2 separate regions of the Homo sapiens genome follow, and region 1 is linked to region 2. The links come from fine-mapping of genetic effects on gene expression. Tissue or cell type: non-classical monocytes. Region 2 holds a variant in brackets; the other region holds the start of a gene. All regions are shown on one strand. Distances are between the middles of the regions.

Region 1 (2,500 bases), 300 kb after region 2:
CAGCCGGGAGTGGGGGTTCGGGATCTAGGGGCCAGGCTACCAGAAGGGGAGGCGCTTTGATAGTCTGAATTTCCAAACTTCCCTCAGGGGGATTCTGAACCCTCTCGTCCCTACTTGGGTCGACGGTACTGGGGTCTACACCTGCGCTCCCTGGGTGGCTGGAATGGGGAGCAAGGGAACCAGTCACTCTCTCCCATTTTTAGGGCCACAGAAACCTGCCCTCCACATCCACAGTAGCAGGCGGCAGAGAGGACGCCACCCACGAGAGAGAGTGACCGCGGACTCCCACCGAGAGGCAGGCGGTGGAGGGGCTCCTCTTGGAGACCCCGATTATGGAGTGGTTTCCCCTCCCTCCAGCCCGAGCCGCAGCGCCGGGCTCCCCCACCCCCCCAGTCCCCAGCCGGCTCGGGTTTGAAAACTTTCAGCGACCGAGCGGAGTTGGCGCGGCGTCCCCAGCCCGCAGGATGTCCAGTCCCCCCGCCTCTGCCCTCGCCCACTCCCCGCCGTCCCGACCCGACTCTTCCGGGCGGCGGAGCGGGAAGGCAGCAGCCCTTACCTGGGACTCGCCGCCGGCCCCGCTCCAGCGCAGCGTTTGGGGCCAACTCCAGCCCCAGGCGGGGGGCGGGCGGGGGTGGGAGGGACGCGGCGCGGGGCGCTGGGCCAGGCCCGGTCCTGGCTGGGATGGCGGGGCCCGGGCCGGGACGCAGGGCCTGCCTCTCCCTGGGACCGAGGCTGAGCCAGGCGCGCTGGGTTGCTCGCTCTCGCGCGGGCCTGTCCCCAGGCAGGGCTCCTTGCTTTCGGCGAGGGTGGGCTGGAGCCTGCATCACCGTTACATCACCTCCATTCAGGGCGCTAATCGGGCGCCCGCCGCGCTCCAGGTACGTGCGCTCCGTTTACACAGGAACAAAGCCTGCCCGGCCCTCCCCGCCCCGACTCACCTCCAGGCTGAGCCGACTCGTACTTTCCGGCTGGTGAGGGAGATGGGAGTTTCTGGCCCTGCCGGCGTGTGGGTTGTTGCTGTTGACTGCCACGCCCCCGCATGCGGGCGCGCGCACACTCACGCGCACTCACTTTCTGGGCTCGGCCTTCGCCGGGGCAATTGGTGTGAGGGTGCAGCCCTGCGCACCCCCCACCGCGTCTTCCAGAGAGCGCGCCTACGGACACGCGCGGGGCTACCTTGGCGCGTCTCCGTGGGGGACACCTAGCCTTTGTCACCTTCGTCCTGGCCCTCCCGTGAGACACACTTCAGGCACAGTTCGCTGGGAGCGGGCCGGAGCGAGGCGCACACTCAAGACAGAGTCCGTCTTTGTCACGCCTTCTGCGCCCCCTCCCCTCCCCAGCTTGCACACGTGGACACACCGCACACCGAGGTTCGCCTTTTGCACGCACGGTCCTTCTCTGGGACCTCCACCAGTCACCAAGCGTACGTGGGATCGTCACCAAGCGCTCCTCTCACGCGTGGGCCGAGTCCAGACCACTCTGGACCGTGGGCAAAGGTCCCCCTCGGCCCGACTACCCCGCGCCCGGGTTTCCTGTGACCGTTCCAGGTTCTGCCCAACTCGGAGCGCGCTCTCCCCTCCCGGCGTCCCCGTTCCCTGCTCCGACTTGTCCTAATTAGCCTTCACGGTTTTGTTCCCCGAGGTACAGTGTTTAGCGCGACCCCCTGGGCCTCTGCGCTCCGGGACACGTTGGCTCTGACTCCGAGTCCGTCCTTTCCAGGAGGTCAGGTTCCCACCAGCCCCACCCCCCACTCCCTGTTCCGGGGTGGATCTGTGGGTTGCCACCCTTTCCCCTCCGGCCCCAGGAATCTGCTGAAGCTGGACCGCAGAAATTGGGAAGCGAATCCAGGCTGGTACTTATCCAGCCCGATAAACAAGAGATTTTCCGGCCGCCTTCCCCCGGGGCTGCTGGCCTCGCGGGGGGTGGGGTGCGCAGTCCTGGGGGCCCGCAGCGAGGCCTAGTTAGCCCGCGCCAGAGGCCCGTAGGGGCTGAGGCGCACAGAGGAGGGAGAGGTTGTTGGGCCTGGCCAGGGCCCTGGAGACGCGGAGGGAGGGCAGGGCGCCGAGTCTCGGGGTGCCGGTTCTCATGACGCCGAATTGCCTGGGGGATCGCCAGCGGTGCGCCGGTCGGAGCCAGCTGGTGGCGGGGCGGGCGGCCCGGAGTGTTTGCTCAACCCTGAGCGCCCGCGAGGGGGAGGGGAGGCAGCTGGTCACGGGCTAGGGGGTAGCAAGGTGGAGGAGCGGGGGCTGGGAAAGGGGAGGGTATCTCCCGGGCTGCTTGTTTGCGTGCCTGCCGCGGTCTACGACAACCGGGAGTCTAAACTCTATGAATCACCCGGAGTTGCTGGAGCGATAAACCTCAGGCTGGTTCCTCCCCTCGCACACCGGCTTCTCGGACTCCTGGAGGGAATGTTTGCTTAGCGGCCGGAGCTGGCGGTGAGGCCCTGGTTCTCTAGAACCCTGTATCCCTTCCTGGCCTTGCCCTCACGGGCTGGTCTGGG
Region 2 (2,752 bases):
CACATCAAATCACACCACATACACCTCACACCACACACACTTCAAATCACACCCCAGACACACACACCTCACCATACACACACACTCACACCACACACACCTAACCCCTCAAATCACACCACACACCTCACCACGCACCTCAAATCACACCACACACCTGCCACACCCCTCAAATCACCTCACCACACACACCTCAAATCACACCTGCAGAGATGGGGGCAGGGGACTCCCTGCTATCCAGGTCGATGGCAGAAAACTTCAGAGCTGGGGAACAGCACAGCCCAAAGAGCACAGGGTCGGGATGTGGGAAGGAGACCCGGGCAGAGACTGGAGGGACAAGGCCTCAACTCATGTTTTGCAAAATGTGGCGCATGGACCCCCTGGGTCAGAACCCCCAGATTCTGGGCCCCCCACGTGGTTTTACTGAAGCAGCATGTGTATGAGGGAGCTTAGAATTTGCATTTCAGATGAGCTTCCCCCTGGAGGCTTTTATGTGCGCTGAAGGAGTGTTCGAAAACCACTGGTCTAAACTGTGCAACAGCTTGACCAACAGATGAGAGATTCAGACTTTATTTGGAAGGTAATAGTGAACCGTGAATGTTCAGGTGGGGGATGAGCAGAGTGAGGTGTTTTTTTTTTTTTGTTGTTGTTGTTTTGAGATGGAGTCTCACTCTGTTGCCCAGGCTGTAGCGCAATGGCATGATATTGGCTCGCCGCAACCTCCGCCTCCCAGGTTCAAGTGATTCTCTTGCCTCAGCCTCCCAAGTAGCTGGGATTACAGGCGTGTGCCACCACGCCTGGCAAACGTTTTTGTATTTTTAGTAGAGAAGGGGTTTTGCCATGTTGGCCAGGCTGGTCTTGAACTCCTGGCCTCAAGTGATCCGCCCGCCTCGGCCTCCCAAAGTGCTGGGATTACAGGTGTGAGCCACCACGCCTGGCCTGAGTGAAGGTTTTGAAAGAGGAATTTTGCATCAGTGTTTAGGCAAGACTAGGGAATTTGGGGGAAACTGAGGAGAGAGGTAACAAGGAGGACCTGAACTGTGGTGGACTGGAAAGACCCCTGTGTGAACCCCATCGACATCAGTGTGCCATAACCCCATCAGCACGACCCCCACAGCCAGTTTGATGGGGCTGGTAGTGGAGAATTTAGGGAAGGTCTTGACTGAGAGGCATCTACACAGGACCTGGGCAGGTCCCACTTCCAGAAGGCGATGGGCCTGGTAGTTTATGGGTGAAGGCATGCCCGAGGTAGTCACCCTGCTCACCTCTGGCTCCTCCAAAGTGGGAGACCAGGGGCTCTGTCCCTCCCCTGCCACCTGGGCGGCACTCAGCCTCCTGAGCGGAGCC[T/C]GTGGCAGCACCTGCCTCCCTTCCCATCATGCAGGAGTTGCAGGCTACAGCCTGGCCAGCGGCAGGGCCCTTATCCATGCCATATCTCAAATCTCCGTGAGAAGGACAGATGGGTAAACAAGTGTCTTGTAGCCTGGCTCTCCGGGGACCCCCAGACCGCTGATATCTGGAGGAGACCCCGATGTCCACCAGTTCTTTGCTCAGGTGTCCCCAGGCTGAGTTTCTGGCCAGGGGCTCAGGTCCTCACTCAGCGTAAGCAGGCAACAGGTTTGTCCTGAGATGCACCAGAACATCGGGTGCTGGCTGGTACCAAGCAGGCAGCCCAGGCTCTAGGAGGCCCACCCTGAGGTCAGTGGGAAAGCCCAGTGTGTCTCATCTCAGGCTAGACAAACAGTTTGACCACACACTTTCTTTTTCCTTCACAGGAAATCGGCCTCAATTTTCTTGCCAAGCTAGCGGCAAAATTTGGAGATCTCACCTCTGTGGTCTGTGGAACGTGAGTCAGACTTTGCATGTCCACAGCCACATCCACCCCACTCTCTTCCTTCCTCACCAGACAGGCAGAAGGGTGGGTGAGGAGATGCGGGTGTGACCCTGAGGGCAGGGTGTGCCCTGGCTGCTGAGAGCAGACTGGGCCTGGGCTGGGGTGGGTGACGCCTGGCACCAGGTCATCCTGGTTTGCTTCATGGCAGCCTGGTCCCAGACCTCAGGGATTGCCAGGTAGCCTTGGCCTCCTGGGTCTCAGCCCTTCCCTATTCAGCACTACCAGAGCCCAGCCGGTCCCAGTCTGGGGAGAGCCCTGGGAACTGGTGTTTCAGGGCCGATTCTAGGCCCCAGAACACACCCGAACCAGGCACTCACTTCCGCTTTGCCTCCTGGAAGGTCATGCAGAAGCCATGTTCATTCTGAACCCCTGCCTTCCTGGCTGTGACCCAGTGGGCAAGCCCATTTTTCTGAGTTTTCCTCTCTCTCTTCCCATCAGTGTGGCACTGCTGCGTCCTGACCCTGAGCGTGATCTCACAGGCCCTGTGCTCTGGTCTCAGAGGTTCCCAAACATCCGCGTTGTCCAAGAAGAGATGTTTGCTCTTCCCCATCTTGAGATGCTAGGATTCTGGAGTCCCAAGGGAAGGCCCTGCTCTTCCTGCCACAGCCCGAGAGAGGAGTGGAACCCTCTCCCAAGGTCTTCCCAGGAATTCAAGGGCAGCTGCAGCCGCAGGCACGGGACAACGCGGGGAGATGGGATGTGTGGTAAAGGAGGGATCCCTTGTCTCGCAGAGGGGCTGCGGGCAGAAAAAGCCGAGGGCACTGGGCTTCCTTAACCCGAGCTGCCCTTTTACCATTTTACCGAGGACTAAACACGGAACTGTAACCTGGGCCTGCCAGCTCCCTGAGACCCGTGTGACTG

What was found. PIP is the estimated chance that this variant, and not a neighbour inherited with it, causes the effect.
Region 1: it holds the start of GPRC5C, and the variant in region 2 is fine-mapped to the expression of GPRC5C in non-classical monocytes (Schmiedel 2018, PIP 0.92).

The regions. Positions count from the first base shown.
Region 1 is chr17:74,430,580-74,433,079 of GRCh38, reverse strand. It overlaps GPRC5C (G protein-coupled receptor class C group 5 member C), which reads right to left and starts at 992. Exons shown (of 4, transcript NM_022036.4): 1 at 939-992. RefSeq lists a silencer at 1,980-2,119.
Region 2 is chr17:74,729,914-74,732,665 of GRCh38, reverse strand. It overlaps LOC124904057 (a long non-coding RNA gene), which reads left to right. Exons shown (of 3, transcript XR_007065905.1): 2 at 1,773-1,915; 3 at 2,330-2,752. It also overlaps a transcript of RAB37 not described here. Among named protein-coding and RNA genes, the nearest start is that of RAB37, 6.0 kb to the left of the region's middle. The variant T/C (reference allele first, on the strand shown) is at 1,348.